5 separate regions of the Homo sapiens genome follow, and all the other regions are linked to region 2. The links come from fine-mapping of genetic effects on gene expression. A gene starts in region 2. Each other region holds a variant in brackets. All regions are shown on one strand. Distances are from middle to middle. Region 1 overlaps FAR2 (fatty acyl-CoA reductase 2). Region 2 holds the start of ERGIC2 (ERGIC and golgi 2). Region 3 has its middle 230 kb from the start of FAR2. Region 4 overlaps FAR2 (fatty acyl-CoA reductase 2). Region 5 overlaps FAR2 (fatty acyl-CoA reductase 2).

Region 1 (5,106 bases), 92 kb before region 2:
GTGAACTAAAATTTTGTTAAATACAAAATTGTCTTTAAGAATAGCATAATATATGCTTAAATCTCTGAGGTCACAGAATACGATTTTAAGTGCAAAATTGTCTTTAAGAACAGCAAAATATATGCTTAATTCTCTGAGGTCACAGAATACGATTTTAAATGCAAAATTGTCTTTAAGAACAGCATAATATATGCTTAATTCTCTGAGGTCACAGAATACGATAGTCAGGTGGTTGGCATTTTAGATAAATATGCAAAAACACAATGACCCAGAGAGGTAAGTAACTTCCCCCAGTCACATAGCAAATCAATGGCAGAATCAGAATTCAAATATAATATTTCATGACTCCTAAGGGCCTGAGCTCTTTCCAATACACCAATGGTTCTCAACTTCAGGGTATATCAGAATTACTAGAGACCATGTTCAAAGAAAAGATAGATGCCCAAGCTTGGACTAATAACTGTTGAATGAGAATCTTCAGGGTCAGGACATAGGTTTGTTTGTTTGAGCAACTTCCTGGGCAACCCTGCTATATGCCGAAAGTTGACAGCCATACTACTACACCATGCTGCCTTATGGAGTTATAGAAACGGTCTTCGCTAAAGCACTAAAAACGTCTAGATTAATCCTTTACATCTTATGAGAGTTACTAGTGAACTAGCAACAATTTTAACATTTTGTGAATTTTTGTTAATCTGTACATTGGGTATAATGGTTTTTGCTTAAATTAACGAACTTATTTGTGTTTGTTTTCAACTTAAAGCTAATTTGCAGAATTCATTGATTTGTTTTTACTCAGCACTCTAAAAATTCTCTAAAAAAAATTACAGTGTCTCTTTCACCTTGGGACACCAAATATTCCACAGAGATTGCCCCTTAGTTTAAGCAACCTTACTCATTTATTTTCCAAAAAAAATTAAGCAAATTTTGGTGGGTTATTGGGACTACATAATGTAGTTATTTTTGAAGAGAAAGACTTTTTGAAGAGAAAGACGTAGTAAAATGATTAAAGATCAAAGATTCTCATGATTAGAAAAGATTAGATTACCTTCAATGAGCCCCAGGAAGTAGAGGGCAAATCTCCTGTGGATACTTACAAAATGAGGTCATGTGGCTAACTAGTTCATTGTAAGAGACCATGTTAAAGGCCTCTGGATTGTTTCAAAAGCATTATATAAATGTAATGCCCCCACCCCAATTCCTACTTCTAATAAAAATGCAGTCTTGATGTCTGACTACAGAAGTCATACCCAAGGAGTTTATTTAAACCAGACAAATTTTTTTTTCTGGTTTTCTCTTTCTGCTGAATTTTCTTACTTAAGAGTTTGCAGTTTCTCTGTTGCCTCTGGGCTACAAGTAACTATTCATATAATTAGAAGAGTATCTTATGTTTAAAAACAAATTAAGGAGAGAAATACTTGCCTGTGTAATGGCAAGTCAATGGAACACTCCCAAAGTTTCCAATCTGAAATGCTTAGATCACCTTTCAGCTGTATCTTTCAGTGACCACAGAAATGTGTCCTACTCTTGTAAAGAACAAGGTTTCCTAAAATGGATCAACAGCAATCCCTCTGCTTGAGTTTTGATGATGGTGAGCAGCTTTCCAACTATTTACCTCTCAGTCTTGTGCCATCAAGTAGAGAATATGAGTTTATGCAATGAGAAGAAACAGGATAAGCTCTTAGAATTTAAAATAATTATATTGTTCTTTATTGGTGGGCTTTCAATGAAATTTCTGAAATTCTGTTTTTTCTTTACTCATTTTGATTTCATCTATTTTTCTTACTTTAATCTCTCACATTAGCAACAAACACACCAAAAAGAAAATTTTTTTTAGAAGAGCTGGTGCTTATCCAGGTTCCATTTGCACCATTTCATCTTGTCCCTTCAGTCTTGTCATTATTATAAAAATAGAAGGTCTGCTATAAAGACTGGAGAAATTACATTACTTCAAGCTCCCACTGGCAGTTAATATAGAGGACTCAGGAAACACTTGTGTCCTCGTTTAGCAGTCGCTATCTGCTATCTCTCATCACAGTCATACAAACTTCAGGAATCAGGCTTCCATTCTATTGTAGTAATAGTTCTATTACTGATCTTACAGGAATTAATTTTAATTCAATAAGCAAAATTTGAGTCTTTTCAATGAATGGCATACTGTCAGGCATAAAGAGATGAATAAGAATCAAGGAGTTTACAAAGAAATTTTTTAAAAAGCCTTTAAAATAGCCACACATAAAATTAAATACCTAGGAATTAACTTGACCAGAGAAGTGAAAGATCTCTATAATGAAAACTATAAAACACTGATGAATGAAATTGAAGAGGACACCAAAAACTAGAAAAGTATTCCATGTTCATGGATTAGAAGAATCAATATTGTTAAAATGTCCATACTACCATCCAAAGCAGTGTACAGATTCAGTGCAATCCTTATCAAAATATCAGTAACATTATTCATAGAAATAGAAAAAAACAATCCTAAAATTTATTTGGAACCGCAAAAGACTGAGAATAGCCAAAGCTAACCTGAGCAAAAAAGAATAAAACTGGAGGAATCACATTACTTGACTTCAAATTATACTACAAAGCTATGGTAACCAAAATAGCATGGTACCAGCATAAAAACAGACACACAGACCAATAGAACAGAATAGAGAACTCAGAAAAAAATCCACACACCTAC[A/T]GTGAACTCTTTTGACAAAGGTGCCAAGAATATACACTGCAGAAAAGACAGCCTCTTCAATAAATGGTGTTGGGAAAACGATATCCAGATACAGCAGAATGAAACTAGACCTCTATCTCTCTCCATATACAAAAATCAAATCAAAATGGATTAAAGACTTAGATCTAAGACTTCAAACTATGAAACTACTACAAGAAAACATTTGGGAAAATCTCCAGGACGTTGGTCTGGGCAAAAATTTATTGAGCAATACCCCACAAGCACAGGCAACCAAAGCAAGAATGGACAAATGGGATCACATCAAGTTAAAAAGCTTCTACACAGCAAAGGATACAATCAACAAAGTGAAGAGACAAGCCACAGAATGGGGGAAAATATTTGCAAACAACCTATCTGATAAAGGATTAATAACCAGAATACATAAGGAGCTCAAACAACTATACAGTAAAAAGTATAATAATCCGATCAAAAAATGAGCAAAATATTTGAATAACCATTTCTCAAAAGAAGACATACAAAAGACAAACAGGCATATAAAAAGGTGCTCAACATCACTGATCATTAGACATGCAAATCAAAACTACAATGAGATATTATTTCACCCCAGTTAAAATGGCTTATATCCAAAAGATAGGCAATAAAAAATGTTGTCAATGATGTGGAGCAAAAGGAACCCTCATATGCTGTTGGTAGGAATGTAAATTAGTACAACCACTACGGAGAACAGTTTGCATGTTCCTCAAAAAACAATAGAAATACCATATGGGCCAGGTGTGGTGGCTCATGCCTGTAATCCCAGCACTTTGGGAGGCTGAGACGGGTGGATCACTGGAGGTCGGGAGTTCAAGATCAGCCTGGCCAACGTAGCGAAACCCCATCTCTACTAAAAATACAAAAATTGGCCAGACATGGTGGTGCATACTTGTAATCCCAGCTACTCAGGAGGCTGAGGCAAGAGAATCACTTGAACTCAGAAGGTGAAGGTTGTAGTGAGCCAAGATTGTGCCACTGCACTCCAGCCTGGGTGACAGAGTGAGACTCTGTCTGAGAAAAAAAAAAAAAGAAAGAAATACCATATGATCCAGCAGTCCCACTGCAAGGTATATACCCAACAAAAAGGAAATCAGTATCTCAAAGAGGTATCTGCACTCCCATATTTGTTGCAGTACTGCTCACACTAGCTAAGATTTGGAAGCCACCTAAGTGTCCATCAATAGATGAATGGATAAAGAAAATGTGGTACATATACACAATGGAGTACTACTCAGCCATCAAAAAGAATGGGATTCAGTCATTTGCAACAACATGGATGGAAATGGAGGTCATTATGCTAAGTGAAATGAACCAGGCACAGAAAGACAAACATTGCATGTTTTCACTTATTTGTCAGGTACAAAAATCAAAACAATTGAACTCATGGACATAAAGAGTAGAAGGATGGTTACCAGAGGCTGGGAAGGCAAGTGGGAGGGGGTGGATGGGAATGGTAAAGGGTGGCAAACAATAGAAGAATTAATAAGACCTACTATTTGATAGCACAATAGGGTGACTATAGTCAATAATAATGGTACATTTTAAAATAATTTAAAGAGTATAATTGGATTGCTTGTAACTCAAAGGATAAATGCTTGAAGGGATAGATACCCCTTCTCCATGATGTGCTTATTTCATATAGCATACCTGTATAAAAACATCTCATGTACCCCATAAATATATATACCTACTATGTACCCACAGAAATTAAAGAAAAATAGAAAGAGTTTCCCTACAAAAGAAAAAAAGAATCAAGGAGTTTACAAACTAGAGGGGGAAATATAAGCCCTGAATTTAAGAACAGACATGAATTTTTCAGAGTCAGTGTTTCCCAATTATGGTACCTGGACCATCAGATCCACCTGCAGAGGCGGTTAAGAAATACAATTTCCTAGGTTACACACAAAACTACTGAGCCAGGGTCTCTGAGGGTGGAATAAAGAAATAATTTTTAACCAGGTTCTTTGATTTTTCATGCCTACAGTTTGAAAGCTACTGATGCGAAGATTGCTCTGGGCAGTTATAAAGGGAAATGAGTTGTATGCAGTTATTCATCTGCAATGGTCCGTGTTTGCACTCTAAATGGAGAAATTCTCATCATTTGCATGCCTTAAAATCAATTGGGGGACTTGGTGTGAAATACAGATTCCTGGGTGTGCCCTAGTAATTTCTTATTTAGTGGGTATGGGATAGGACCCAGGAATATACATTTTAATTATGCTACTAGTGATTCCAATGCAGTTCACTTTGTGGACAGCGTTATGAAAAGACCAAAACCACTGACCTGTTGGATTCCAGTTGGCTGCCATCTCTGTCACTCTATTCAGGACATGGCACTATTAAAGAGTATTATTTTAGAAGCTATAGGGGTATGGTGAGATTCCTGA
Region 2 (5,106 bases):
AAGCCAAGGAAGACAATATAAATGTGAGTTTATAATCAGAAAACCCTGATTACCTAGGCACTTACTAGTTGTGTGACAAGTGTGGAAAGATACTCAACTTCTTAGAATCCTCTCTCCATAATTTTATTTTAAAAGATGGGCAGCAGGACATAATGGCTACCTCACAGTGTTAAGATAAAAATGAGGCATGTAATATCTATTTCTAATTCTCTGAAAAAAAGCAAAGATTTGTAGGATATTTGAGATTTAGTTGTTAAAGTCTTTGAGGAAAGTGGGAGAGTATGTGAGGTTAGTTGACAATCTCCTGAAGTTAGGATGGCATAAACTGATAAGACTAAAAGTTAAGAGAGACTATAGAGTGATAACAGAATAACCTTAAAAGTGCCTAGTAGCAATGTGAAGCAAGGACAAGTATAATCCTCCTCAAAGAACAACTAGACTATAGTAGCTCTCAATAAAAGTATAGAAAATTAAAGTTAAAAAGTATTAAGGAAAAGGTCAGGGACACATGAAATATATTTACAATAGAATGAATGTTCTCAAAAGCAAAGAGTATGGGGGTTAATAAGGCACTCAGAGGGTAGATCTGAGCCACACTACAACGTGACTATATAGAGCAATAGAAAGGAAGAACTTATGCTTTAGTCATTAAAAGAGGATAATAATTTAAGAAAACAAGCAACTGGATAATGGGAGTTTAAGGACACATTAACCACACCAATCAGAGTGTTTAATCAATCTGGAGTTCAGAAAGATATTATTTTAAACAATATCTTCTTCAGTCTACATTTTGACTAAGTAACAAGGCAACATTTGTAACTACAGATGTTAGAAAATGAAAATAAAAAATAACAAGAGCTAACATGCATTGAGTGTTTACTGTGTGCCAGGTATTGTTCTAAATGCTTTGTATGTTTCAACACATTCAATCCTCACAACCTTCCTATGAGTTAAGTATCATTATTTCATTTGGCCGATGAAGGAACTAAGGCACAGAGAGGTTAAATAATTTGACCACTATGACATTAAGAGGCAGAATTACAATAAATATTGGGAAACTATTAAATAGGATTTTTAGCAGGCACTGACTGCCTAAAAGTAACTTCTGGTAAAGAAAAAAAAAATAGCCATTTCTTTCACTTAAATCATCAATCCCCAAAGAAAGAAAATGTGTGGGTGGTTGTTGTTGTTTCCCTAACTCTCGTTGTTCCAGACTAGGCCTGATTTCCTTTGAGAGATCTTTCAAACTTGATATATTTTTATGATTTGTACCAGGAAGCCATTATAACACGCAACTGTATACTAAAGTTCACCATCATTTAAAAAAAAAAAAAAAATCCTCCTCTCTCTATCCATCCCTGCACCGCCAACCCCCACCCTCCCAAAAAATCAGAATTTTTTTCCTCATGTTTTCCACTAGAACTGGCATAATTACAACAACTTAAAGATATCAACAAACAAATTAGGTAAATAACCATGTCTTTTTTCAGTGAACAAGCCAGGCTCATTCTTTATAATTGCTGTATACTGGAGTCCAATGTATCAGGCTAGGCAATTAACTGAAATACTGAATTACAACTTCAAATGAATAAATCCTGTTTTTAACTGTAACTTTCATTGCTTCTGAAAACCAGTCTGGCAACATTTTAACAGCTATTATGCCACTTTGTCTTTAAGTCTCGGGGGCACTAAAATATAAAAGTTATTTAAACGTGTTTTCTCAAACAATGACCTGTCAACTCTATATACTACAGATAAACAAGGCTATTCTCCACCACGAGTTGACACGTTGCCTTCGGAAGGTTTCCTGCGCCGAGGAAAAGTAGTGACAGTCGAACCTGTCTCTCAGCATCTCGCCCTCCCCCGCCCCCTTCTCATTTTCCGAAGCACTGTGCGAAACTCCTTCCGGGCAAGGCCAAGACTCTTAAAGAGACAGAGGGCAACGTGCTGCCACGAATGTGGCATTTGTCTGAATGGGGGTAGGGAGTCTGACATCCGGGAGGACTGGGACTCGACCGATTGGGATCCTACTCGCCTGCGGACTGGAGAAACCACCTGGGAACCGGGCACTGTGACAAGCAAAGGGTCAGAATCAGGTGCGATCGAGGAAGCACCTGAACTCCTTCGAGTTGCAGGATAGCACACAAGCACCCGGACCTGGCAAAGGGAAGCTCCCAGTAGCATCGTTGCCTAGGGTCCTGCCAGTAACGCCCCCGTGGGAGGTGGAGCGGCTTCTCCGTCCGACCGGCTCTCTAGAGATCAATGAAGACAGGAAGCCAAGCCCATGACAGGCTCCCAGTTCCCTCAATTGCATTTACGCCCTAAACAGCCCTGGAACAACCGAGGGAACAGCACCCAGCGGTGTTTCAGTATTTTACCTTGTGTTATGGTCCCAGCCTACCGCCATGTTTCACAGAAGCCCGGGTCGCCGGGGCTCCCGCGTACCCGGAAATATCGCGAGAACAAAAGCGACTATCACAGCTGAAAACGTCAGAAAAGAGACAATGTACAGATCTCGCGATATTCCCTTTGCTTACGACGTGCTTAGGGAATGAAGAGGCGTGGTTAAGATAAAAGAGGCGTGCCTACAGGGAAATGAGGTTGCAACTTGTTTTAGGTGTAATCGCGCCGCCAGTCCGGTTCTGTTTCTATGGGAAGGGAGGGGTTACTTTCCGACTAACACTGAGACTGCAGAACGAATCTCAGCTCCTCACACCGTATTTCATTACTAATAAGAGCCTTGGGCGCAGAAATTATCCCTAACAACCCTAATGCATATCACCTGTGCAATTGTTTTGTTTCCCTCTTTCAGTTTTTGTGTCGTTTTCCCCTGACAAGAACATTTGAGCTTCCTTTTCCGCCATAGGTAACGCTTTTTATTATTTGATCAGCGTTTTTATTGTCTTCCAGGTTTTAATATCATAAGAAAGCACATATGTCTTCCTCATCTCCCTTCGCCAACACCAACTATGCCTTCAAATATTTGTTAAGAAAGAAAATTAATACCTCATCTTTTTCTACCACTTCATAGAACAGGAGTTAATAGACGGAACTTCGGAAAGAAAAGTTAAATGTGAACTCCTGGAGAGTAAACCCATTCCAGGTTCCTTTTCACCCATCTGTTACCAGATTTTATAATCAAACATTGAGATTTAAATTTTCTGATTCATTGACCTAGAAGTCTAACAACGGCATAATTATGACAACTGCTTATAATTACTGTTTAAAGGCTTTAACTGCTTTTTTAAAAAATCTGCGTATCCTCACAACACTCTTAGAAGATAATACCAGTATTTACCTGTTTTATAAATACGGAATTTGAGTCAAGGGGTAGTGAAGTGATTTACCCAAATTCAGACCGCTGGGAGAGTCAGGGAAATCTTGATCACAATACTAAACTGTGCCTCAAAGGAAAAAAATCACATTGTTTTATGTAGTGAATTAACCTTTACTGAAATACTAAATTTCACTAAATTGAATATCCCCCAAAATAAGGACTGATGAAAAGTTTCCAATGAATCAATTTTATTTTCAGACTTTCAGAGTTAGTCTAATTAAATCAATTTAAAGTTCTCACTTTCTTGACATGCTTAAGAAGTATAGTGTAGTGGGTGAAATCATAGACACTGGAGACAGGACTTCCTGGGTTAGAATTCCAGATCAGCAACTTACTAGCATGTAACCTTGACCACATTATTTCATCTCTTTGTGTCTCCATTTGCTCATCTGTAAAATGGGCATGATAATATCTCAGAGTTGTTACGAGGATTAAGTAAATTAATATACATCTAAAATGCCTTTTTTTAATCTTTGCCGTAAAGGCATCAGCAACTCTTCCTTCTTTGTGAATATGGGCTCTTGCTTGGATGGAGGCTGGCTGTTGTTCACTTAGTTACATCTGATCCCTCATCTCCTGGATAACCTACTTTCAGGGTAACAACTATCCCATGAGAGTTGGATTTCCCAGTGTAGCAAAACTGACTAATTTGATCCTTCTTATTTAGAAAACAACTCACCATTTTCTAATCTACCCAGTGAAGAGGGAACTTAATTTCCCCTGAAGATTGAAACTCTCGGGCTGCAGCTAAAGCCGCATTCTTTTCATTAAAGGCCAGGGTTTGATCTAACAGTAGCACGACATCTCTGCAAGCGAGGTCAAAGGTTTGCCCTAGACCCTGTAGGACATCTATGTACCTATCAGGATCATCTTTAAAAAGAGATAGATACTTAATCTTGTGTTATCAGTGGCGTTATGTCTGAAAAACAATTTGCTTTAAAAAGTCCATTATGTATTACCCGCATAAGATAGGTTTTAGACTGAGATTAATAATTGTTCCATAACAACCTGTATTTAGTAAAGATGATCAAAAGGTGTTTTTGTGCCATTTTTTTCTTTCTCTAGTTCGATTGAATAATTCATGGGCTTTTTTCTAATTCTCCTTAGTCCTTCTAGAACACAGGTCAACAGATGTTTATGACTTCAGTCCCCATGATCTGAGTCAAGGTCCCAGTGGGGATCCATACTGGGGATGGCTTGCTGACCAGTCGGGAATTTGTCCCTTTCTTCGGCTGTCATTCTGTCATTTACTTGACTAAGATACCAGGTATCTCCAAACTCTTGGGCTGCAGCTAAAGCCGCATTCTTTTCATTAAACGCCAGGGTTTGATCTAACAGTAGCATGACATCTCTCCAAGTGAGGTCAAAGGTTTGCCTAGACCCTGTAGGACATCTGTGTACCTATCAGGATCATCTGAAAACTTCCCCAGGTCTGCCTTGATCTGCTTTAAATCAGAGAGGGAGAAGGGGACATGTACCCGGGTTGGGCCAAATACCCCTCCCGCTATAGCTTGAAGGGGACATAACCAATAGCCCGGGGTTTTTTGTGGTCCTTTGGAGATTTCCTTGCTTGTTTCCTTCTGGCCAGGGGAGATTAGAGGAGGATTATCATTAATAGGAAGGGGAGCTATAGGGAGGCTAGGATATGGGGATAAGCTGAGAGATCCTCCTGTGGGATATAAATTGTAAGCTTTGCATAGTTGTGTATTCTCCCTCAATGAAAATAAAGCTTGGACATGAGGTATTTCACTCCATTTGCCTTCCCTCTT
Region 3 (5,106 bases), 460 kb before region 2:
TCAAGTAAATCACCACACTTTGAACAGATCTTTTGAGAAAAACACTGAAAGGCAGTAAGAGACAACACAGACACCAAAGTTAAAGAGGGAGGAAGCTGGGAAGCCTATACAGAGTGACTGAGTGCGAGGACTGGCTCTCAGTCTTAAACAAGTCCTAAGGGTGAGTGAAGAAACTCCAGGGCACAACGCTCCTGATATGGATCTCTGGAATCCTGAATATCACAAATCCTACAACCACCATACACATTTGAATTGGCAAGGGGAACTGCCCAGAGAGTAGGCAGAGGCAGAACTTCAACTCCCACAGAGCCCAGAAGATTTAACATGTGAGGCAGGTACAGTGAAACACAATCATAGGAACCCATCCCCCGAGGCTCTCCATCTTGCTCTGAGTGACTCTAGCCTCTGCTAACTTCCTGGCAGGGATGCCTTTCCCACAGGATGGGGGAAAATCTGATCTGCATTCCCCCTCGTTTGTCAGCTCCTCCCAAGGCCCTTGCCTGGCTGCTCCTGCAAGAGGGTGCACACAGCACAGCCTCCACTGACCTGCCTAATTAATTTACCAACAGCCTGGGAGCAGTTTGACTCCTCCAGCATAGGCAATGCTTAACCCCAAGGCGCCAAAGAACAAAGATGCAGACCTGGTCCCAACCTCATAGGAGCTGAGCACACTGCCTAAGGGAATTGAGCTGAGATCTGTGGTTTGAGATAGATCAGGACAGCAACCCCCATCTTAGAACATGAGGAAGAGTGAGGCATGGGTTCATATACCAGTGCAGAAGCTAGGCATCCATACCTCTGCAAGTCTGGTCCAGAAAGAGTGTAGCCTGTTGCCAGCTGCAGCTTCTGCCTGAGGGAGCCTCATGGCTCACAACACGAGAAACAGCCCAGTGATCTGGGAGCAGAAGGTTTGGGACAAAACTAGCTGGTTAGACCTGCTCCCAGGGCAGACACTGGAGGCAGACTTAGTGTGGGAGTATAAGCTGGGCAGTTCCCACAGCCATCTACTGAGAGAAAAAAAGCTGGGCCACAGTTGCCACACTAGCTGCACACCTGCAGCGCCACCACTCTGCCCAGGGAATCCTCTACTCTTGACCCACTCTATCACCAGACTATCTGCAGACACACCCCGCAACATGCTTCAACTCTGCCAAGCACAGAGGACCAGCAGGTCCTTGGGTATTGTGGGTCTCCTGGTGACCTGAACATTGGCTTGGGCCAGCCATAAGAGAAAGGAGAGTGCAGTCTTCAAGGGCACCTCTTGGGGCTAAGAAAATGTGGGTGCAACACCAGTGATTACAGGGATGTCCCACAAAGCCCACCTGGGAACAGATTGGTGAGGGAGTTGTCTCTTGCCTCCCCATCTCCCCTCCACATGGTATTGTTGCAAACAAAATAAAATACAAAAGAGGTGTGCAACTGAGTAAAAGCTTATCTGTTGGCTCTTACTCTTAATCACCATCTACTGGATTGCAGCCTGAATGACACCACCAAACAGAAATAAATTCATTCAGCACTTATCACATGTGAAAACCAGTGCAGGAAACTAACCACAATTAAGGAAACTACAGAGACTTGGTTCTCTCAAAGCACCCAGAAACAAAGCCAAGTGACTATCTACAGTATACACCATAGTCAAACGCTCAAGGGATAAAATAAAATGAAAACAAAAAGCTTCATCCAAATGGCAGCAACTTCAAAAAGATAAAGAAACACCAGCCCTCTGAGATGAAAAGGAATTAGCAGAAGAACTGCAGCAATTCAAAAAGACAGAGTTTCCTTACCTCCCAAGGATCACACTAGTTTCCAAAAAAAAAATGGATCTTAAGCAGATTGAAATGTCTGAAATGACAGACATAGAATTCAGAATCTAGATGACAAGAAAGTTCAACAAGATTCAAGAAAAAGTTGAAATCAATGAATTCAATGAAGCCAGTAAAACAATCCAATAGCTGTAAGATGGAATAGTCATTTTAGGAAAACCCAAACTGAACTTCTGGAATGAAAAAATTTACTACAGGAATTTCAAAATAGTTAGAAGTCATAGCAGCAGACTAGA[C/T]CAAGCTGCAGAAAGAATTTCAGAGCTCGAAGATTGGTCCTTCCAGTCACTCAGTCAGACAAAAGTATTGAAAACAAAGTTTTTAATGAGCAAAACTTTAGAGAAATGTGGGATTATATAAAGAGACCGAACCTGTGCCCATTGGCATTCCTAAGAAAGAAGAAGAGAGAGTAAGCAAATTGGAAAACATACTTGAGAATATAGTCCACAAAAGTTGCCCCAATATCACTAGAGAGGTTGACAAGAAAATTGAAGGAATTCAGAGAATCCTTGTACTATACAAGATGACTGCCCCAAGAAACAAAGTCCTCAGACTTTCCAAGGTCAACATGAAAGAAAAAAACCTTAAAGGCAACTAAAGAAAACAGTCATATTACTTATAAAGGGCAAAGGGAACCCCATCAGGCTAATAGCAGTCTTAGCAGAAACACTACAAGACAGAAGAGACTGGGGGCCTACTTTCAGCGTCTTTAAATAAAAGAAATTCCAATAAAGAATTTTCATATTATCCCAAACTAAGCTTCATAAGTTAAAGAGTAATAAATCTTTTCCATACAAGCAAACAATAAGAGAATTTATTACCATGAGATCAGCCTTATGAGAGATTCTTAAGAAAGTTCTAACATGAAAACGAACAATACCTACTACCACAAAAACATACTTGAATACACAACTCATAGACCCTATAAAGCAACTACACATTCAGGATTACAAAGCAACCAGCTAACAACATCATGTCAGGAGCAAAACCTTACATATCAATATTAACCTTGAGGGTAAATGGTCTAAACACCCCAATTAAAAGACACGGAGTGGCAAATTGAATGAATAAATGAGACCCAATCCTCTGCTGTCTTCAAGAGACCTATCTCACACGTTACAACACCCATATCCTCAAAGTAAGGGGAGACTTTACTTTGACACTATGGGTGTTGTAACATGTGAAAACAAAAAACAAAAACGAGCAGAGGTTGCTATTCTTATATCGGGGAAAAAAATACTTTAAACCAACAACAGTAAAAACGGGTAAAGAAGGGAAATTACATAATGATAAAGTGTTCAATTCAACAAGAAGACATAAATATCCCACATGTATATGCACCCAACAATGGAGCACTCAGATTAATAAAACAAGTATCTAGACCTATGAAAAGGTTTAGACAGCCACACAATATTGGTGGGGGACTTCAATACCCATCTGACAGCATAAGATAGATTGTTGTAGCAGAAAAATTAAACTAAATATCTACAGAGTAATCCACCCAACAACCATAGAATATACATTATTTTCATCTACGAATGGAACAATCTGTAAGATTGACCACATGCTCAGCCATAAAGCAAGTCTCAATACGTTCAAAAAAATCGAAATTATACCAAGCATACACTCAGACCACAGTAGAATAATAACAAAGACCAATACCAAGATGATCTGTAAAAACCACACAATTACATGGAAATTAAACAACTTGCTCCTGGATGACTTTTGGGTAAACAACGAAATTAAGGCAGAAATTTGAAAAATGTTCGAAATAAATGAAAACGGAGATACAATATACTAACATCTCTGGGATGCAGAAAAAAAAAACAGTGTTAAGAGGAAAGCTTATAGTACTAATTACCTAAATCAAAAGTTAGAAAGATATCAAATTAACAATCTAATATAACACCTAGGGGAACTAGAACAAGAAAAACTAACCCCAAACATAATAGAAGAGAAGAAATACCTAAAATTAGAGCAGAAATGAAAAAAATTCGAACCCCAAAATTCATACAAATGATCAACGGAACCTAAAGTTGGTTCTTTTAAAGGATAAAATAGGTTAATATATCGCTAACTAGATGAACAAATAAAGAGAGAAGATCCAAATAAGCACAATCAGAAATGACAAGGGCGATGTTACAACTGACCTCACAGAAATACAAAATATCCCCAGAGACTATTATGAATACCTCTATGCATACAAACTAGAAAATCTAGAGGAAATGAATAATTTCCTGGAAACACAGAATCTTTCAAGATTGAGAAAGGAAGAAATTGAAATCATGAATAAATCATTAATTAGCTCCAAAATTGAATCAGTCATAAAAAACATACCAACGGCTGCTTGTTGTGGCTCATGCCTGTAATCCCAGCACTTCAGAAGGCTGAGATGGGTGGATCACGAGGTCAGGAGTTCGAGACTAACCTGGTCAATAAGGTGAAACTCTATCTCTACTAAAAATACTAAAAATTAGCCAGCCATGGTGGTGCATTCCTGTAATCCCAACTACTCAGGAGGCTGAGGCAGGAGAATCACTTGAACCCAGGAGGTGGAGGTTGCAGTGAGCCAAGATGATGCCACTCTACTCCATTCTGGGTGACAAAGTGAGGTTCCATCTCAATAAATAAATAAATAAATAAATAAATAAATAAAAACACCAACCAAAAAAGCCCTAGATCAGATGGATTCATAGCCCAATTCTACCATATCTGCAAAGAGGAGCTGGTACCAATCCTACTGAAACCTAAAAAATTGAGGAGAAAGGACCCCTCCCTAACTCATTGTATGAAGCCAGCATCACTCTGATACCAAAATCTGGCAAAGATACAAAAAAGAAAATTACAGGCCAATATCTCTGATGAACACAGACATAAAAAAATCCTTCAACAAAATACTAGCAAACTATATCCAGCAGCAGATCAAAAAGTTAATTCATCACAATCAAGTAGGTTTTATTCCTGGGATGCAAATTTGGTTCAATATATGCAAATCAATATGTGACTCACCAAATAAACAGAATCAAAAACAAAAACTACATCATCATCTCAATAGATACAGAAAAGCTTTAGATAAAAGCCAACATACCTTAATAATAAAAATCCTCACCAAATTCAGCATACAAAGAAAATACCCCAAAATAATTAGAGCCATCTGTGACAAACCACAACCAACATTATACTGAATGGGCAAAAGCTGAAAGCATTCCCCTTGAGAACTGGACCTGGACAATAATCCCACTCTCAAAATTCCTATTCAAGGTAGTACTGGAAGTTCTAGCAAGAG
Region 4 (5,106 bases), 210 kb before region 2:
TAATAAGACCTCATTCAGCCCATATTAACTTAGAATTGGTATAGATGGCTCCTTCCTGATTCTGTAAGTACTTTAAGGTTTGGCTGAGTGCAAACAGCTGGCACGTTTGAGCAGACCAGTTGTTAGGCAATTTTCCTAACCCTGCTTCTGCAAGAGTTTCCTTATCATTTACTGAATACCCATTGTGTCTTTTTCCCTTAATCGCCTGGGAGGAAACATCTATCTCCTGTCCTGAAGGGAGTTCCTCCTTGGTCTGGTCAGACCTTTGTATGGTAATTAAGATTTAGATCCCCTGTTAGGAAACCTGCTGGGTTAAGGATTTTTGTTAGGAAGGCTATGGGTTGTCAGTGGCCTCAGTGCTTTCGGGCTATGCCCTTGTTTACACTGACAACAAGGTGGTACTGGAGTACCACGGAGAAGACCTTCAATTATCAATTATAGGTTTTAAATTTACCCTGGCTTTTAAAGGAATAGGATACACTGTGTTTTCTTTAGTATTTTCATCTCTCTTTCTTTTTCTTTTTCTTCTTTGTCTCTCTCTTTCTGACTCCCTCTTTGTCTGTTTCTTCCTTTCTCTCTTTGACTTTCTGTCTCTCTCTTTCTCTCTCTCTCTGACTCCCTCTTTTTCTCTGTCTCTTCCTCTCTCTCTTTGACTTTCTGTCTCTTTCTCTGTCTCTCTGACTCCTCTTTGTCTCTGTCTCTTCCTCTCTCTCTCTCTCTCTCTCTGACTTTCTCTTTCTCTCTTTCCTTTCTGCTGGTCTTTCCCTGCCTCTGCTAGCCGCTTATGCTGCTGTTCTCCCCTCACCTTCCCCTTTTCGATGGCTTCGACAGTGTAAGACTGCCACCTCCTTGGGTTTTTGCACTGCGTGCAACAACTCCATGATTTCCTTGTGGTATTTAATGGGGGTTCCCCCAGAGGTTAGGAACTCCCTTTCTTTCCATATTGCAGTATGGGCATGTGGGATTAGATAAGCATACTTACTATCTGTAGCGAAGTCTCCCAGTGACAACTGAGGAGGTGGAAGAAATACCTGATTACAGGCTGTTCCAGGATTCCTCAGATGGTAACAGACCTTGAGGACAGCTGTCCAGGACAGGAGATTAACAATGAGAAAGCCATGCCAGTGTCCAGGAGGAAGTCAATTTCCTGGCCATCAATGAGCTGGTGCTTGCCCCAGGCACCCTCAGTCCTGTTGTTGGATCATCTGGTTGGGGGCTTCTGGCCCAGAGAACCTTTGTCCTCTGGGGCAGTGTGCTGTCCAGTGATTGCCTCGGCATAGTGGACATGGGCGAGGGGGCAGCTTGTTTCTCATAGGACAATCTTTTTTAAAGTGTCCTTGCATGAGGAGTGCCTCTGCCCGGCTGCTGCCCCATCTGGGAAGTGAGGAGCACCTCTGCCCAGCTGCCACCCCATCTGGGATGTGAGGAGCGCCTCTGCCCGGCTGCCCAACCATCTGGGAAGTGTGGAGCGCCTCTGCCCAGCTGCCCACTGTCTGGGATGTGAGGAGTGCCTCTGCCCAGCTGCCGCCCCATCTGGCAAGTGAGGAGTGCCTTTGCCGGCCTGCCAACCGCCTGTGAAGTGAGGAGCACCTCTGCCTGGCCGCCAACCATGTGGGAAGTGATGAGGGCCTCTGCCCAGCTGCTGCCCCATCTGGCATGTGAGGAGCACCTCGGACTGACTGCCCACCATCCAGGAAGTGAGAAGTGCCTCTGCCCAGCTGCCCACTGTCTGGGAACTGAGGAGCACCTCTGCCCGGCCGCTGCCCTGTCTAGTAAGTGAAGAGTGTCTCTGCCTGGCCGCCACCCCATCTGGGAAGTGAGGAGCGTCTCTGCCCTGCCGCCCAACTGACTGGTAAGTGAGGAGTGCCTCTGCCCGGCCGCCAACCATCTGGGAAGTAAGGAGCACCTCTGCCTGGCTGCCGCCCAGTCTGGGAAGTGAGGAGCGCCTCTGTCTGGCCGCTGCCTCATCTGGGAAGTGAGGAGCACCTCTGCCCGGCCACCAACTGTCTGGGAAGTGAGGAGCGCCTCTGCCCAGCCACCAACTGTCTGGGAAGTGAGGAGCGCCTCTGCCTGGCCACCAACCATCTGGGATGTGAGGAATGCCCTCTGCCCGGCCACCAACTGTCTGAGAAGGGAGGAGTGCCTCTGCCCGGCCGCCCCACCGTCTGGGAAGTGAGAAGTGTCTCTGCCTGGT[C/T]GCTGCCCCATCTGGGAAGTGAGGAGCACCTCTGCCCAGCCACTGTGCAACCTTCCAAGTGTTAAGTGACAGCCTTGTGTGTGATCTTTTCTGTCTTCCCCAAGTTTGCATTTTCGACATTAAAGTTTACTTTTTAATTAAAAGTTTAAAAAAAAAATAAAGTGTCCTTGCAAACCACACTGATAACAAGCCCTACCCGGTGATTGGCCTGCTCCATTTTCTGTCCTCTCTGAACCACTGAGGTTTGTTTGTCTGAGGGCCATGACTAAGGCTGCAGCCTTCCTCTGATCTCGCTTTTCCTTTTCGGCCTGTTCCCCTGGTCCCTATTATAGAACGCTGAGGTTGCCAGGTTTAATAATGCCTCCAGATTTTGTTCAGGACCCAGGGCTCACTTTTGGAGCTTTCTCCTGATATATGCAGCTGATTGGGTAATAAACTTATCTTTTAGGACCAATTGACCCTTGAGTGAGTCAGGTGACAGGGGAGTATATTTTCTTAAGGCCTCCCGTAGCCGCTCGAGGAAGGCAGAAGGATTTTCTTCCTTTCCCTGAGTTACGGTGGACATCATTTAATAATTCACGGACTTTTTCCTAATTCTTAGTCCTTCTAGAACACAGGTCAACAGATGTTTTTGACTCCAGTCCCCATGATCTGAGTTGAGGTCCCAGTGGGGCTCCATACTGGGGATGGCTTGCTGACTGGTAGGGAATTTGTCCCTTTCTTTGGCTGTCATTCTATCATTTACTTGACTAAGATACCAGGTATCTCCAAACTCTCAGGCTGCAGCTAAAGCTGCATTCTTTTAACTAAAGGCCAGGTTTTGATCTAACAGTAGCATGACTTCTCTCCAAGTGAGGTCAAAGGTTTGCCCTAGATCCTGTAGGACATCTGTGTACCTATCAGGATCATCTGAAAACTTCCATGGGTCTGCTTTGATCTGCTTTATATCAGAGAGGGAGAAGGGGACGTGTACCCGGGTTGGGCCAAATTCCCCTTCCCCTACAGCTTGAAGGGAACATAACCGATAGCCCGGGGGTTTTTGTGGTCCTTTGGAGATTTCCTTGCTTGTTTCCTTCTGGCCAGGGGAGATTAGAGGAGGCTTATCATTAATAGGAAGGGGAGCAATAGGGAGGCTAGGATATGGGGATAAGCTGAGAGGTCGTCTAGTGGGATGTAAATTGCAAGCTTTGCATAGTTGTGGATTCTCCTTCAATGAAAGGAAAGCTTGGACATAAGGTATTTCACTCCATTTACCTTCCCTCTTACAGAAAAGATCAAGCTGCAGGATAGTATTGTAATTTATACTTCCCTCAGGTGACCATTTTTCTCCATCAGAGAGAGAATACTGGGGCCAGGCCATAGTGCAGAAAAAAATGTGTTGCCTCTTTTTCAGGGTTTGCGGGTCAAATTGGTCCCAATAGCTTAGGATGCATTTCAAGGGTAAGCCGGTTGATACCTGAGTGTTTCCCACCTGAAAGACAAAACCGTCCGCAGTTTTGGTTTGTTTGTTTCCCCACACCCCCCCTACCCAAGAACCCGCGACAGTCCCTAGACCCTGCTGATCAGAATAGTTGCACTCACCTACGCAGCAGCAGAAACACTAGTTTTCCTCCTAGACCACAAGGAGGACTGAGGAAGGTTGGATTTAGTGGCCCTTACTAACACATTCTCAAAAACCTGCACCCTTGCCTGTCCTCTTAGACCACAAAGAGGACTGAGGAAGGTCAGATTTAGTGGCCCTTACTGACACATTCTCGAAAACCTGTTGGAGTCCTAAGCATTCTCCTGTTAGTATTGGGACTTTACCCCTGTCCTGTAAAGATGTTATGCCCCAAAAATGAAGTGGAGGGCCATACCCCGAGGGAGGGAAGTGATCTCCAGGGTTGGAGGAGTGATGCCTTTTGTCCTCACCTGAATAGGAAGGATATCATTTCTGAAGCTCCCCATATCCTAGCTTCAGGAATAGCTTTTGTTAGGCCTGCTAGTCTGAGGAGGGATCCTAACATTTCAGAGAAGATAGTCTGCCCCTCCCCCACCACGATGGGGCTTTGGGCAAAAAATATGTCTTTCTGATTGATGAGCCCGGGTGCCTAAAGAAGGGAATGGAGTCCTGGAGTTTATACTAGAAATTATTCTTATAGGAGAAACTGGAAAAGCACCAGAGACAGGGAGTGGTTTTTATTCTTTTTTTTTTTTTTTTTTTTTTTTTTTTTGTGAGATGGAGTCTTGCTGTGTCACCCAGGCTAGAGTGCAGTGGCACAATCTCGGCCTCCCCAGTTCATGCCATTCTCCTGTCTCAGCCTCCCAAGTAGCTGGCACTACAGGGGCCCACCACCACGCCCGGCTAATTTTTTGTATTTTTAGTAGAGACAAGGTTTCACTGTGTTAGCCAGGATGGTCTCGATCTCCTGACCTCATGATCCACCCACCTTGGCCTCTCAAAGTGCTGGGATTACAGGCATGAGCCAACGCACCCGGCCAGGAGTGGCTTTTAGAAGTGGAACTAGCCTCGGAGAAGAGAGGCGAGAAGAAGTTTGTCTGACAGGCGTTAGGACCCAGGAGGCAAGGGTCAGGATAGATAGGATAGAAGGGCAAGTCTCACTTGGGCGATGTGACTTTGAGAGTTCCACTCATGGCCACAAGGTCAACCAACTTGTTGTTGGGACCCCGAAGCTGAATGGCTTTCCTCTCTGGTGACCCTCGGCTCAGCCCAGAAGTACAGGAGATGTGGAACCTGGTTCCAGGCAAACCAACGCTTCCAACTCCAAAGAGTTGGGGGTTGTTAGAGAGCCCTTTCCCAGAAAGCCTGACACTCATGTCTTTAGTCTGGCAGCTGCACTAGTCACTTTCAACTGGCTGACAGGTGCCCAGTATTTAGCCCCCAAATTCTAAGGAAAAGTAGGACAGAATAG
Region 5 (5,106 bases), 71 kb before region 2:
AAGAGAGCAGGAACCTGAACATTGCCATCATAAGGCCCTCCATTGTGGGAGCAACTTGGCAGGAGCCTTTCCCAGTAAGCCCACTTACCTGGATTCTGTGTTTTGCTTCCAAACTAAGGTTCTTCTAGTCCAATTACTTTCTGATGTCTTTCTTCTTCTCCTCCTCAGGATTTATAGCTAAGTGCAGCCAATCGAATATGAACCCATTATACTAGGGCAAAATTCCACTTTGGGTTCAGGATTTACCCAGCATGTGGCTCCTCTGGCAGTTATCTTGACTGCCCTAGAGTTGGACGGAGAGCTTAAATTAGCTTCTAACTACTCTAGTCTCAAAATTCACATGGGTGATGGTTTCATATCTTGGCTTTCCTACTATAGTTTAAGCATACCAGAATGTCCTTGATGGCCAAATTGGTAGTATTACAACTGCCAGGGTAAACAAGAGTTTCAAAGCTCACAGAAGGATCTCAGTTTAGGAATACTAATTTTTTTTAAACCTCAGTATACTGTCATGACCTTTTGAAAGTACTTTGAATTATACCATCTTCTTGAAAGCAAGTCTGTGAAGCTTTGGGGTAGATAAATTCCAGCTCCACTACTTACTGGTAATGCAACATTTTTGAGTTGTCCCTTCCATAAAACAGGACAGATACTATGGAGAGTTGATTTGATGAGACAATGTATGAGGAGTGGTCCCTACTAAAAGGCTCAACAAATATTAATCCCTTCATCTTCTCCTCTCTTCTCTCTCCTCTCCTGTTATACTCACACATTTGACTTTTATACTGTAACGTAAAGAGACATAATAAGGTCAGCTGAATGGCTTAGGTCTTAAGAAACAAACTTAAAAACACATTTCCCTCTAGCTGCTCTTAAATATAATCTCTGTAACATCTTTAAGTAAGTCAATATACACACAGACACACAGACACACACACACACACACACACACACACACATATATATATATATGTATATATATCTGGCATGGACTCTATAGCTGGTAAAAAATGTTAAGAAATGGGCCATTAACACAAATCATGTTTTCAATGTTCTCCTAAGGAGGCTGAAATCAGGACTAAGGTGGAGAAGTATGGTTGGTGAATTGCTTAGCAGATCATGATATAAGGACAAGGTCCAATTTAGTCCATAAGAGGTCATAAAACACCACAAAACCATTCATGATTCCTGCTAAGAAAAACAATCCTGGCAAAATTCTAATTTTTGCACAGTCAAATAAAGTACAGAAAATGGCCAATGCTTTGCCATTATCTTTTGAGATCTTAATAATACTGAATTAGATAGTTCTATTGGCTGGGATCTCAGTGCTCTTGTTTGAAATTTATTAAGATTAGACTGCAGATGTTCCAAAGATAAAACAATTTTCTGAAATGTGTAACCAATAGAAATCTTCTTTCTTTTAGGGTTGGGTTGATAATATAAATGGACCTAATGGAATCATTATTGCGGTATGTATAATGATGAAGAAATAACTCCCTGAAATGTAGTAGAGAAATAGTAACAAAATTCTTAGTGCTGGCTTAGCTTCATTGATCCAAAAACATAAATGTTACTTTACTAATAACTGAGGCATATTATTTTAATTGTTCTGATTGTAATATACAGGCAGGATGAAATTATTCTTTGAGAATTTTTTATCAGAAAAACAGAGGTAATGTGCTATCAGTTACTATTTAGGAGTTTTATTTTTGAAGTCTTTGAGCATCAAGGACTTTTCTTTAGTTACCACAAGATGGGGGTATTTCCTCCTTTTTGCAGTTTATAATCTCATGAATTAGTGCAGTGAATTGAGGATGCAGTAAAAATATCTTCAAAGATTATTAAATTCTTGATTATAAAACACATGTAAGAGTTTATGTGCGTGTGTAGAAAAGAGATATACATCAATAATTTTTAATGAATACAAGAAAGAGAACTACCAATTGGAGCAAATTTTTCAAATACAAAAATCCATGAATATAGGCAACATCTTTTCAATAATATCTTACCAGGAGAAACGTGGCTCCTCTAGGTAAGCAGCCCTTAGTG[C/T]GCATCTGCCCGAAGTCCAGATTGATCCAGCCAAGCTGTGGGGCTTCACAGCTCACACTGAAGCATTTAGGGTCTAAACCCCACTTCATTCTTCTGTACAATGAATAGGAAATCAGTGATCTAAATGAGTTTAAATTTTATTAGGGATTTAGACTGCGATTCAGACTCTGACTCTGTTCCTCCCAGAACTAGGTTCAACATGAATTGCAATACAGATATGAGACAGTGAATTATAACAGTGACAAAGATCTTCCTTCCGATTTCTGATTTTTCTAGCAGCCCCTTTCTTTCTGCTTCCCACCTGCCTTCAACTCTTTCTTCTACAAAAGTTCAGTTGGGGTGAACGTTTAGTGACTTAGAACATCATTATTTTAACGTGATCCCAAAACGGCTTTCATTACATGCAAAGCTACATATTTATTTACATTTTCTAAAATGTTCTAAATTGGTTTCTTATGTCCAAAAGAAGGGGAGCTAGTTATAAGAAAACAGAACTGAGTAACATAAGAAAGTGCTAATCGTTGCAAATCAATGTTGGAAACATGCAAAGCACAAAGAATCAATTTCATAAACTCAACCAATTATTAACATGAATAATTCCTAATTCTTGCATCTATATAACATCAGTGATCTGTGAGGTGAACTAAGATACTGAATAAAAAGTAAATAATAAGGCAATTTTTCCAAGCCAAAAAAAAAGTTTTCTTTTATTAATGGTGGAATTTCACCAATTAATGTTTTTCAAATAAGTATTTCTTAAACTTTTAGTGCCTACTATTGCTTGTAAGTTAATAAACCCTAGCAGAAAACAAAATCATCAAGGAAATGGTAAACAAATATTAATGGGAAAATTAATGGGAAATTTGTATAACCTTAATTCTTAACATGTCTTATGAATTAATTTTTAAGATGTAAAAGTTTATTCTTGGTGTTTGTTAATTGAGTTTATTAACCTCTCACAAATTTGAGGAATTTTATTCCCTAAAGGAACGTGAGGAACACTAGTAGTTCATGAAAATGCTGGAGACGCATGCACTTGGCTGGGAAGGTAGGATAGGCTGAGGAAGTCAGACTTAGCATAAGAACCTGGTAAGCAGTGGATCAATGTTAGCTGTTTTCACTTATTGCACTAGTATAACCAGTTTGATGATACATACTTTAGCCCCAGCTATTATTTAAGACCTGGTTTAATATTTTATGTTCTTTTTCCTATGCAGACTGGGAAAGGGTTTCTTCGGGCCATAAAAGCTACTCCAATGGCTGTGGCAGACGTAATTCCAGTTGATACAGTCGTCAATCTCATGCTAGCTGTAGGATGGTATACTGCAGTTCACAGGTGTGGATGCTCAAGTGGGCTTTCAAAGACTTCATGAGGGGCAGAGTGAATATATTAGGCCCATTTTCCAAATATAGGCATTTCATTGTACAAGACCCCAAATGTGTGAAAGTGCGTATTTCAATATTTTATAGAGTTCCTAATATGCCATCATATATGCATTGAGTTGTTTTATAAATACAGTTTAGTACTTGGCTACTCATAAAGTAATAAAACCTTTAAATCACTTAACCATAAAATTCTTGATAACCAAAAGGCTTTTCTTTCTATTCAGTAGTCTAAAATTCAGCTTTCTCTTTTAGGGCAAAGGAGATAGAAGCTGATGAAATGACAGAATTTTTTTTTAATTGAACTCTGGTAAATGCCAAAAGTTCAGTCACGATGTGTGGGGAAGCTTCCTGGTACAAAGGAAAAAAAATAGGTTGTTCATATATTTGGGTCTGTTAGTAAATTAAATTTTTCTTATGTGAACTCACATATATGTACTCCATAATATGTCACTCCTATTTAACATCTCTTTCACACACACACACACACACACACACACATGCTTTTCCTAGTCTTCTTCCATTTTGCTTATTAACCCAGAGAAAGAATGAACGATGGAAGCCTTTCATAGGTTGCCTTAATCAGATGAATTACTGAAACCACTCTGTCTAAATATTATTTTTCCTTATTTTTCTCTCATTAGTTTTCTATTTTGTTGTACTTATCTAATTTTTATTTCATTTTCCAGACCTAAGTCAACATTAGTCTACCACATTACATCTGGTAACATGAATCCCTGCAATTGGCACAAAATGGGTAAGTACTTTAGCTATGTAACTCTATAATTACTAGTGTCTGGCACAGAGAAAAAGTTGACAAAGTGTGTCATGGAGCTTAGAGCTTATATGGGGAGAAAGACAAAAAGTAAGTAAAGAGACAAAATAATGAGAAATTGTAAATGTGTGATAGTTAACTAGAATGTACTGTGGTTACCAAAGAAAGGAGTCAGTGGCAACATGTACAAGATTGTAAGCAGTAAGGGGTCCATTGGCTATAGCGATTTTAAAAATGATGAAACAAAGCAAAAGTTGGCAGTTATAAAGAATGTCAGTGATAAAATACTGAAATACTCCTCCCTGTTGGAGCAATGGCTCCTACACACACCCCTTCCCTTCTTGATATGTCACTGAGAATGCGACATCATCAATGACCAATGAGATAGAAAAGTTAGGTGATATTAATCCTTTGTTATTGAGTCCATCATACTGATCATTAATTTATGCAGCTTGCCTCTCAGGTGTGCAATAACCACTCCACTAGCGATTTGTAAAAGTGAATAGGAAGCACTATGGGAGAAATAAAAACAACACCCAGATTCCTTGAACCCTGGGACCAAGGTCTTGGGTGGTGCTGAGGAAACTATATGTTTAATAAGCATCTAGATGATTCTTGATGCTTGGTGAAACAGAGAAACCCTGTACTATACAAATGATTGATCTGTCTGAATGTAAAGGATTGGATCTGTTCAATGTATAAAACCATGGAAATAGAGTTGAGTACAACTTAAACATCTAATGATGGTAGAAAGTTAAAGTAGGGAGTTTGGCTATTCTGTAGGATTTCTTACTACCTACTAATGCACACTTTCTTTCCCTGTTACATAGGTAACACTACCTCTACACATTCCAGTGGTAAGCCATGGTGCCACACTGAGAGTTCTATTGCAGGGCAGC

What was found. PIP is the estimated chance that this variant, and not a neighbour inherited with it, causes the effect.
Region 1: its variant is the best candidate, but not a certain one, in a credible set for the expression of ERGIC2 in whole blood (INTERVAL, PIP 0.51).
Region 3: its variant is the best candidate, but not a certain one, in a credible set for the expression of ERGIC2 in whole blood (INTERVAL, PIP 0.53).
Region 4: its variant is the best candidate, but not a certain one, in a credible set for the expression of ERGIC2 in whole blood (INTERVAL, PIP 0.61).
Region 5: its variant is the best candidate, but not a certain one, in a credible set for the expression of ERGIC2 in whole blood (INTERVAL, PIP 0.62).

Annotation. Positions count from the first base shown.
Region 1 is chr12:29,286,713-29,291,818 of GRCh38, forward strand. All of the region lies in intron 2 of FAR2 (fatty acyl-CoA reductase 2), which reads left to right. The region is part of intron 5 of FAR2-AS1 (FAR2 antisense RNA 1); the gene reads right to left. Among named protein-coding and RNA genes, the nearest start is that of FAR2-AS1, 29 kb to the right of the region's middle. The variant A/T (reference allele first, on the strand shown) is at 2,687.
Region 2 is chr12:29,378,737-29,383,842 of GRCh38, forward strand. ERGIC2 (ERGIC and golgi 2) reads right to left here and starts at 2,436. Exons shown (of 14, transcript NM_016570.3): 1 at 2,379-2,436. RefSeq lists an enhancer at 1,999-2,168.
Region 3 is chr12:28,914,290-28,919,395 of GRCh38, forward strand. No RefSeq gene overlaps it. Among named protein-coding and RNA genes, the nearest start is that of FAR2, 230 kb to the right of the region's middle. The variant C/T (reference allele first, on the strand shown) is at 2,060.
Region 4 is chr12:29,170,046-29,175,151 of GRCh38, forward strand. All of the region lies in intron 1 of FAR2 (fatty acyl-CoA reductase 2), which reads left to right. Among named protein-coding and RNA genes, the nearest start is that of FAR2, 23 kb to the left of the region's middle. The variant C/T (reference allele first, on the strand shown) is at 2,195.
Region 5 is chr12:29,307,762-29,312,867 of GRCh38, forward strand. FAR2 (fatty acyl-CoA reductase 2) reads left to right here. Exons shown (of 12, transcript NM_001271783.2): 5 at 1-74; 6 at 1,425-1,469; 7 at 3,267-3,385; 8 at 4,122-4,189. It overlaps FAR2-AS1 (FAR2 antisense RNA 1), which reads right to left. Exons shown (of 7, transcript NR_103860.1): 2 at 2,010-2,142; 3 at 89-283. Among named protein-coding and RNA genes, the nearest start is that of FAR2-AS1, 7.5 kb to the right of the region's middle. The variant C/T (reference allele first, on the strand shown) is at 2,050.